Linked DNA regions of Homo sapiens. The protein of the gene in region 1 purifies or fractionates together with the protein of each later gene. This does not show direct contact. Each region holds a gene or a part of one and is shown on either strand. Other genes may lie near its edges.

Region 1 (3,656 bases):
GTCAGGTTGGTCTCGAATTCCCGACCTCAGGTGATCTGCCCATGTTGGCCTCCCAAAGTACTGGGATTACAGGTGTGAGCCACCACACCCAGCCCAAATTTACCACTTTTTAATTTATACTTTTCAGTTTGAAAGTCTAATATAGTTAAATATATGAATCTTTCGTGACTTTTACTATTGATGTTAAAGTTGTTAAAAATTTTTGTGGAATGATTTCATATTTAGAACAAATATGACATGTGGGAAACTAATCATGTTGGCTTGATAATGGAATCAGTTCTTAAGTAATTTTTATAGATGTTTAATAAATAACATTATTAAATGTTATAGATGTTTAATAATGTTATTTATTAAACATCTTATTTGTTTATTGTTATTTATTAAACAACTATTAAATGTTATTTAATAGTGTTATGTATGGTGTTAGTGATGCTTATTTTCATAATAGATAACTGAATATATTATGTGTATACATATGTATAAAACAATGTTTTATATATACATACACATAGATGTCTTAGAATGATTGAAACAGTTATGATTTTTCATTTTGAGAATTTTTAATATTTGGCAAGTGCAAGTAATTCTTTTTTGAGATGGAATCTTGCTCTGTCACCCAGGCTGGAGTGCAGTGGCACAATCTCGGCTCTCTGCAACCTCCGCCTCCCGGGTTCAAGCAATTCTTCTGCCTCAGCCTCCCGATTAGCTGGGACTACAGGTGTGCGCCACCACACCCGGCTAATTTTTTGTATTTTTAGTAGAGACGGGGTTTCACCATATTGGCCAGACTGGTCTCGAACTCCTGACCTCGTGATCTGTTCACCTCGGCCTCCCAAAGTGCTGGGATTACAGGCGTGAGCCACCACGCCCAGCCAAGTGCAAGTAATTCTAACAGCTTTTAGTGAAATTCCATGTCTTAAAAATTGTCAGTTTGAATATTTAAATTAAGTAGTGTATTCTGACATGAAGTTTGCTATCGTGTTAAGGAGAGAAAACATCTTTAATTGACTTCTGTGTCTTCACAGGAAGTTATTCACGTGAATTTATTTTGTTGCCTATAAAACACTATGCAATAACTTTTACCTTTTCCCCTTAACTCCCTCAAGTCCCACCAGAGCTATGTGAAGTTGCACTCATGTAAATTGTTATTAACTGTTTTGCAAACAACCTAATACTTGTAGTTCCCTTAATTTATATATATATTCAAGTATACCAACTGAATTGCCCTTTTCTTATAATAAATGTGCTTTCATTTCTAATAAACAACCTTCAAAGTAGTAGGAAAGATATTAACGTCTGAGCATAGGAGTTGATATGCTTTCTCATTGAGAAATTAGTCTCTAGAATTATAATCAATAACATGGTAAAGGAAAAAATGGCGAAAATATTAGAGCTGTGCCTAAAACTTTCCATAGTTTGAGCCTATGGCAAGTGAACATTTGGTTTTTATTACCCTTTTAAACACTAAATATTAATACATTATCTTATACAGAGGCCTTCAATAAATAAAATATTTATAGTAAACTACTGATGAAACACCTTTCATTATGGTAGAAATTCTTTTCAGATTACTGAGAAATGCAGTTCTCAAATTTCTGCGTAAGTTTTGCTTAATTCATTAAAGCATATGCAACTAACTTGCAACATACTTTTTTTACTGCTTGTATTAGAAATTCTTTTTGTACTTAATATTTGTTTAATTACTTGATCCATTAGTTCAATTGTAAATGACTTCCTTGTTGAATTTGTTCATTCAGTTTTCATGATCGTTTGAAGAGTAATCTAGACCAGTGTTATCCAGTAGAACTTTCCTGTGACAGTGGCAACAGTCCTGTATATGTGCTGTCTAATACAGTTGCAACTAGCCACATGTAGCCAATAAGCTCTTGCAGTGCGGTCAGTGTGACTAAGAAACTGAAGTTTTAATTTTATTTAATTATAACTGACTTAAATTTTTTAAGGCCACATGTTGCTAGTGGCTACTACATTGAATAGCACAGATATATCTACTTTATTTTCATTTAGTTTTCCAAGTTACAGTAAGTGTATTTTCTAGGTAAGTGTTCTAATTTTACAAACTCTTTGAAACCTATGGTAAAAAAAAATAATAATGCAAAAGCAAACTCTAAAAATTAATTTACTAAACTATTTGTATTTGATTTTTATTGCATTTATCTGAAACATTGGGTGGCTTTATTGAACATACCACAGACCATTTCTCCTCATTTCTGGAGACAGTTTCATTCTAAGGAGAAACATATGTCCTAAAGACCCATGAACTAATACTTATTTTGAGATTGGTCCATAAAAAGTTTTTGTTCATTTTTAAGCAGCTGATTTAGAAGAAAGTTTTAATGAACATGAACTGGAGCCCTCATCACCTAAAAGTAAAAAGAAAAGTCGCAAAGGAAGGCCAAGAAAAACTAATTTTAAAGGGCTGTCAGAAGATACCAGGTCCACATCCTCCCATGGAACAGATGAAATGGAAAGTAGTTCCTATGTAAGTAAAAAAAACTGTTGGATTCTTACTTTTGTTGCACCATGAATATTTCATTTAAACTATCTATAGGTAAAGTTCATCATTTGAAATGTTAAGTAAGCTTGAAATACCGATAGCATATTTTCATGATTTTTTTTAAGTTCGTTTTTTCTTTTACATTTGCAGAGAGATAGGTCTCCACACAGAAGCAGCCCTAGTGACACCAGGCCTAAATGTGGATTTTGCCATGTAGGGGAGGAAGAAAATGAAGCACGAGGAAAACTGCATATATTTAATGCCAAGAAGGCAGCTGCCCATTATAAGTGCATGGTAAGCATGGTTCTTTTAAGCCCAATTTTGTTTTTTTGTTGTTTGTTTTTCTTTGTTTCCCCTGTGATCTAAAGCCCAAATGATTTTTTTTTTAAAAATCATTTAGCTAGTAACCAAAAAATTTCCCCCCACCAGCATTAGTATTTTAGAGTTATAAACAGTATATCTTATAATCCCAAATCTTAAGTTTAGATTTTGTTAAATTATAGCCTTTATGTTTTAGTAGGATTTGAAGTAATTCTAATTATAGTTACTGTAGTTAGGATAATCTGTAATTAATTATTTCATAACTATAAAAATTTTGTCTTTATAAGCATGTCATGAAATATATTTTAGACTTTCACTATAACCTAATAATTATCTCTGTTGTACTTAACACTCTATATTACAATTATTCATTTATGAACTTATCTTCCCTAACAGACTCTTAAATTCCTTGAAGATAAGAATAAGTTTTTATCTTGACATCCTTAGGTCCATGCCTGACTTACAGTACACATAAATATCTTTGACTTAGATTGTATTGAATGACTCATCCCATTGATAAGGTTTTTAAAATTACATTATTTATGTCAGAGATTCTTAACCAGAGTGCATGTCAGATTTACCTGGTGAGCTTTTTCCGAAATATGTGCATCTAGGCACCCTGTGGAATAGATCTCGTATATGTCTAGTTTGAAAAAAAAAAATACGCGAGTGATTCTAATCTGCATCTATGGTTGAAATTTGCCAATTTAAACTATTTTTTAAAACTTTGTGGAAATGTAAAATAGTTGAGAATAGAGTGACATTGTTGAAATTTTCATTGCTTAAAGCAGGCTATTTAATCTTGGCTCCACACTGGCAG
Region 2 (2,641 bases), on another chromosome or scaffold:
GATCAACAGTACTTGCCTTGCAGAGAATTGGAACATAAAGGCTCTGTCCCCTACCACTCCTCCCAGACGCACACTTACCCATTCTTATTCAGGATATGTCTAATGTCTGCTTGGCACTTGTGGCTACTGTTAGATAATGCCTCGATGAGCAGAGAAGAGCCACCAGGGCCTCGACCCTCATACAGCAAATAAGTGTCCTTGGATTTCTGCAATAAACAACACAAGCACATTTTCCTGTTTCCCAATTCCTTCCCACATGTCAGCCCAGAACTACAAGTATCGCAAAACTAACTCCATGGGATGGGCTCTCTAGGCTGGAGCCTGAGCTCTCAATCTTTATTTTTGTCCCCACCCTCTAACCAACTTTTGAGGTAACAGGAAGTACTACCCCTAACTTGGAAGGAGTCTGTTTCTCCGGTCCCTGAACAATCCATCAGCCATCTCTCAGCTTTGCTTCCTACCATCCCTAACCAAATGCCACATCTAGTCCCTACCCAATCCCACTCAGACTCATCCTCCTACACCCCCATCCTGTAAGAAACCCACCGGTCAAGTCTCAAGGTCCCTACCCTGGGCTGCTGAGTACTGCTGTGAAATATCACACACCTAGGCCTTGTCGTAAGAGCTGCTGAAAACAGCATGGTCTCAAAATTGAAACAATTAATCCAGAGCTCTAGGGACTAATCTCTTCTGGACCTTCCATGCCCCTACTCATCCCTTGTCCATGTATTCAATATTCCCCACTCCAAGCACCCTGTCCTGCAACTTTCCAGGAATTCTCAACTCATAACTTCTCCCTTCCTCTTTCACAAAGGTAAAAAGGGCCACTAGGTGGGGAAAATAGTTGCTGTCTCCACCACCTTCTCTGCACCATGGCCTACATGAAGGCAATAAGCATAACGGTTAGAGCACAGGCTCTAAAGTCTGACTATCTGGTTTCAAGTCTGTCATTTTCTATGCGACTTGAGTCAACTCACCTAACATTCCTGTGCCTCAGTTTCTACTTACGGTGGTTTTGAGGATTCGATGAGATAACACACATAGAGTTTTTATCCATGCTTAGCCTGCAGGAAGCACTCAATAATTTTGAGCTATTAAGATAACTATTACTTCCTCAGAGCCTCCCTACCTGCCCCAGAGAAAGGTGTACCCTTACGTGGACTCTATATACCTGCCCCTCCCACCATCTCTATCACCCCCATCCTCTCCCTTTCTACTGGCTTTTCTCCTTTAGGGCATAAACATCTGAAAAACAAACACTTCCTCCACCTAACGTAAGGGCTTTCTCCCACACTGCCCCTTCTTTCTATAATACCTCATCTCCCTACAACTTGGCTGAGCAGTCCCGGTCTTGACTGTATGGCCCTGCATACTGCCTATGCATCCTACTCCCAGTTGTGCTCCTAGAACCAATGACCAAGGACGGTGAGCTCTCAGAAGACTCTAGGCTGAGGGCGTCAACTACATTGCTACCGTTCTCTCTGATAATTTTTTTTTTTTTTTTTGAGACAGAGTCTCGCTCTGTCGCCCAGGCTGGAGTGCAGTGGTGCAATCTCGGCTCACCGCAATCTCTACCTCCTGGGTTCAAGCGATCCTCCACCTCAGCCTCCCCAGTAGCTGGGATTACAAGCATATGCCACCACGCCCAGCTAATTTTTGTATTTTTAGTAGAGATGGAGTTTCACCATGCTGGCCAGGCTGGTCTCCAAACTCCTGGCCTCAAGTGATCCACCCACCTTAGCCTCCCAAAGTGCTGGGATTATAGTCGTGAGCCACTGCACTTGGCCCCTCTGATAATTTACAGTGTGTTTGTTGGCCATCCAGACATGAGCCCGGTAGAGGCTGTGATCAATAAAAAGCATGTCAAACAGTACACACCTCCATTTTCAGTGCTGTCTCAATCGTTGACTTGGGCATATGTTTGCTGCGACACACCTCTAAGATATTGGCCAGGTTGCTGTTGTGCTCAGGGTTGGGGCCTCCTTCTGAGATTTAAAGAAAAAGAAAAAAAAGAGTGAGCAAAGACATCTCATTACAACATGGGAGAATAAAAGGGATTTCCAGCCCCACCAAGCCAAAGGAGTGGCAAATCACCATTTAGCTCTCAGTTACCTTAGAATACCTTAACTAGTGTTTCAGTGGGATACGGAGAAGTATTTTCGGGTTTTTTTGGTTTGTTTTTTGAGATGGAGTCTCACTCTGTTGCTGGCTGGAGTGCAGTGGCACGATCTTGGCTCACTGCAACATCCACCTCCTGGGTTCAAGTGATTCTCCTGCCTCAGCCTCCTGAGTAGCTGGGATTACAGGTGCACACCACCACACCCGGCTAATTTTTGTATTTTTAGTAGAGACCAGGTTTCGCCATGTTGGCCAGGCTGGTCTCGAACTCCTGACCTCAGGTGATCCACACACCTTGGCCTCCGAAAGTGCTGGGATTACAAGTGTGAGCCACTGCCCCTGGCCTGGATAAGTATTTTGGAAAAGTACTTTTTTTTTTTTTGAGACAAAGTCTCACTTTGTCACCCAGGCTGGAGTGCAGTGGCATGATTTTAGCTCACTGTAGCCTCAACCTCCAGGGTTCAAGCGATCCTCCTGCCTCAGCCTCCCAAGTAGCTGGGACCACTGGTGTGCACCACCACAC
Region 3 (3,656 bases), on another chromosome or scaffold:
CAGAGGCCATGCAGAGCCCTTGTGCTCACAGACGACTTCTGAGGACTCTGCCTCTTCAGAGCTCTGTGTGTTGTGTTGATGCTGAGGAGTAAGCTCCAGGGTCTGCATGGTCCAGCTGCGGCGCTCAGGGACACACTCGTGTACCTCTTGGCCTGGGCTGCACGGTGCCATGAGCTCGGAGTCCTTGGCCATAGGTCCTTAGTTTTTTTGGTTTTTTGTTTTTTTGTTTTTTTTGAGACAGAGTCTCACTCTGTCGCCGAGGCTGGGGTGCAGTGGCGTGATCTCGGCTCACTGCAACCTCCGCCTCCCAGGTTCAAGCGATTCTCGTGCCTCAGCCTCCTGAGTAGCTGGGATTACAGGCATGCACCACCATGCCTGGCTAATTTTTATATTTTTAGTAGAGACGGGGTTTCACCATGTTGGCCAGGCTGGTCTCGAACTCCTGGGCTCAAGTGATCCTCCCGCCTCTGCCTCCTAAAGTGTTGGGATTACAGGTGTAGTCCCAGGAGGCACCGCACGCAGACAGTCCTTAGTTCTGACGTGAATGGTGACTGCAATGAGAGTGTGTGAAGCATCTTGTTCTCAGAGGTCTGACGAGTGGAAACTGAGGTCTGCAGAGAGGAGCCCTCAGAGCCCCACCCCAGCTCTCAAGCGTCCCCCCTGGCTTGAGAAGGGCCTCTGAGGATGGGCCAGCCAGTGGCCTCCATGGGCACCTAGGACTCGCCAGGCCAATGCATGACCTCACAGCAGCTCAAGGCGGGTACGGCTGTGCCCTTGTCCACGGAGCTCAGGTGGAAGGAGCTGGGGCACAGTGGCTGGGCTGGGACAGTGCATGCCACCTGCCGTGGTGAGACAGGTACAGCGTGCCAGGAAGCCTTGGTCACCGCCACAGCCTGCTCCTCATGGTGGGTGCCTTGCAGTCTGGCGCGGGCACTCAGGTGAGCGCTGGGAGGATGGCACATGCCCTCTGAAGAGGTGGTCCATTGGCGGTCCTGGTGGCATTGGAACCTGCCCAGCCTGAACTGTGCGGTGTGTGCAGGTTGACACCAGTGGTGTAGCTGTGGACCCTGGCCTGGGTTTCCTGGGGCGTTGAGAAGCAGCAGCAGGTTATTGGAAAGTTCCAGAAAGCTCTGCTGGCACGCGGGTGGTGCTGTGTGGGGAAGGGCCACTGCTGAGGTCCCAAGCAGTGCTGGGCCCTTGGGTCTGGTCAGGAGGACACGGTCGGCTCTGCTTGTGTCTGGGGACACAGGACCGGCGTCGTTTGATCAGCTGAGCCGGCTTTCTTGCCTGCATGTATACCCTGGTTGTTGATGATTTGCCTCGCTGCTTCATGTTTGACAGGTTCTTTTCTGCAGTTGGTTTCCACAGGGTACTTCTAACTTGATGCGTTAACATTTAACTTGAGAGAGGTGAAAGAATCCAGACGTGGGGTCTGGGGTCTGCACGTGACCTGCTGGTCTTCCTCTGCACAGAGCTGGGGCTGCTTTTTGTGGTGGTGCTGCCAGGCTGGCCCCTTCTGCGCTGAGCACTGGCAGCCACACATCAGGGGAAAGGGAGCTGGCTTTTGTGAGACATGCGGTGTGAAATTTAGACCCCCTGTTGCCTGAGAGTTGGGGAATCAGAGGGAGAAAATGACTTTCCCCTGTGGGTTGCAGATTTTACAGCCCACAGAGCACCTGCCCTTGATTCTCCCAGCACCCTAGGGAGGCAGACAGGAAGCCAGTGAGGACTGCAAGTTACAGGGGTTGGTGCCTGGCTGTGAGCCTGCCAGGATGGGCCCAGGACTTCAGCAGCCCTGGGTCTTCAGCTCCGCTTTCCAGCAGGCAGCCCATGGGCAGTCATGGGACACCTGCATCCTCTCCCCTGCAGCCAAAGAGGGCAGACCCGGGGCCCCTCAAGGCCAGCACACACTTGAGAGCATGGGCCTGAATTGCCTGCCCCAGGGTGCTGCTTCTGGCTCAGACCATCACTGTGGGCCTCGCATCTCAGACCCTCCCGGGCAGTGCAGCACGGTAAGTAAGGCGCCTACAGGGTAGCAGCAGCCACGGGGAAGTAGAGATGGAAGCAGACCTGTTCCTCCAGGAGTTTGGGTCACAAACAAGATAGGCAGGTGTGGGCTCCCCCTCCTCCTGAGGCACCGACTGCCCCTCCTGAGAGTTCAGCGTCACTCAGGTGCCTCATTGTCCTGGGTCCTCCTGCTGGGAATGCTCAGATCAGACCTCAGGTCTCCTAGGGCCTTCCAGTGGACGCCGCAGGCAAGTGTCCAGGGCACAGAGGGGCACGGGGTGGAGCTCTGGGGAGAAGGGGCTGGGTGGATGGGGCTGGCTGGGTGGATGGGGCTGGCTGGGGAAGAGGCACACAGGTAGGGGTGTGTCGAAGGCTGCCAGGGAAAGGGTTTTCAGGTTGGGACAATCCTGGAAAGCAGCCCCTGCAGAGATGGGGGCGCAGAGCATCTACCAGGAGGGCCCAGACAAAAGACTGTCCTGGGACCACCCACTAAGGGTTAGAGAACCTTCTAGAGAATTAGAAGCTTTCCTCTGCCCTAGGCCCTGCCATTCATTTTGTGCCTACCGTTTGCTATCTTTTTACCATTGGGGATCTTGGCTCAGTAATCTGAATTCATCCCTAACTAAATTTTAAACTCCTGGAGGGTGGGGCCTGTGTGGCTAGGGCAGCCACAGAGTCAGGCTGGGCTTCTGAGAGAAGAGAGGGCGGAGCTGACAGCCCCAGCACCCAGCTGGAGACAGGGCCTGTGGTCAGGGGTCTCCTTCCTCCCAGGCCCAACACAGACTGAGCTGCAGGGAGCAGGATGGGCTCAGTCTAGATACAGGCAGAGTGAGGCGAGGAGGTTCCGGAGTGTGGGGTGTGCCAAACACACAGAATTGGCTTCGTGCGAGTCTTGAAAGAAACGTGTGCCCCTGCGCGGCGCGGACCTGAGGGCTGGGCCTCCTGAGGTCTCGGGCTGCAAGGCAGTGTGGGCCACAAGGCGGCGCGGGCTGCGGGACACTGGGAAGGCAGCCGGCTCTTGACGCTTCGTGGGGATGTTCACTGTTTTACGTAAACTTTATTGAAATATAACACACATACTTTGGATACTAGCTTGTGTTGTATTTATGTTAGAAAATAGCTAATGAAATATAGATAAAAGATTAATATTTCAAACGTCTAAGGGAAAACAGACTCCATATTTAAACACACATGATCAGAGACAGGCGTTAGGTGATGGGCACCTGGAGCTCAGAGGCAGGAGCTGGGGTTCCCTCCTAGAGCCACGGGCAGCTCATGAGGACCAGCCCCGGGGGAATGTGAGAATGCAGGTGCTCAGGGAAGGGGACCCTCCTGAGAGCCGAGAGATTTGGGGATCTGCACTGCACAGTGCCGAGCACTTCCTTTGCTGCAGGACTCCACAGAGGCTTTAATGCGCTGGCGTCACTACAGGCATGCGGTGCAGCCTCCCCAGTTAGCCAGGGACAGCACCCTGTCTCCGTGAACCCTGGTCCCACCTCATGACACGTTCTGGTTCACACAGCTGGGCCACTCTGCTCTGCACGGAAGAGCCTTCGCTTCCCTGAAGGGCTAGCCTGCCCCAGCGCACGCCTCTTAGCGGCCGGGCCAGCCCCGAGGCCAGAGTTGATGAGAGCTGGCCGGTGGGTTTC

What was found.
Region 2: the proteins of PHF6 (region 1) and TACO1 purify together in Homo sapiens (affinity purification with mass spectrometry, with the first as the bait; one large-scale study listed by BioGRID). This does not show direct contact.
Region 3: the proteins of PHF6 (region 1) and LRPAP1 purify together in Homo sapiens (affinity purification with mass spectrometry, with the first as the bait; one large-scale study listed by BioGRID). This does not show direct contact.

The regions. Positions count from the first base shown.
Region 1 is NC_000023.11:134,411,158-134,414,813, forward strand, and holds part of PHF6 (PHD finger protein 6), read left to right. Parts: intron 1-2,330; coding exon of another isoform or gene 2,331-2,333; coding exon 2,334-2,500; intron 2,501-2,665; coding exon 2,666-2,809; intron 2,810-3,656.
Region 2 is NC_000017.11:63,603,878-63,606,518, reverse strand, and holds part of TACO1 (translational activator of cytochrome c oxidase 1), read right to left. Parts: intron 1,986-2,641; coding exon 1,879-1,985; intron 207-1,878; coding exon 79-206; intron 1-78. UniProt on the Homo sapiens protein: Acts as a translational activator of mitochondrially-encoded cytochrome c oxidase 1.
Region 3 is NC_000004.12:3,525,901-3,529,556, reverse strand, and holds part of LRPAP1 (alpha-2-macroglobulin receptor-associated protein precursor), read left to right. Parts: intron 1-3,656. UniProt on the Homo sapiens protein: Molecular chaperone for LDL receptor-related proteins that may regulate their ligand binding activity along the secretory pathway.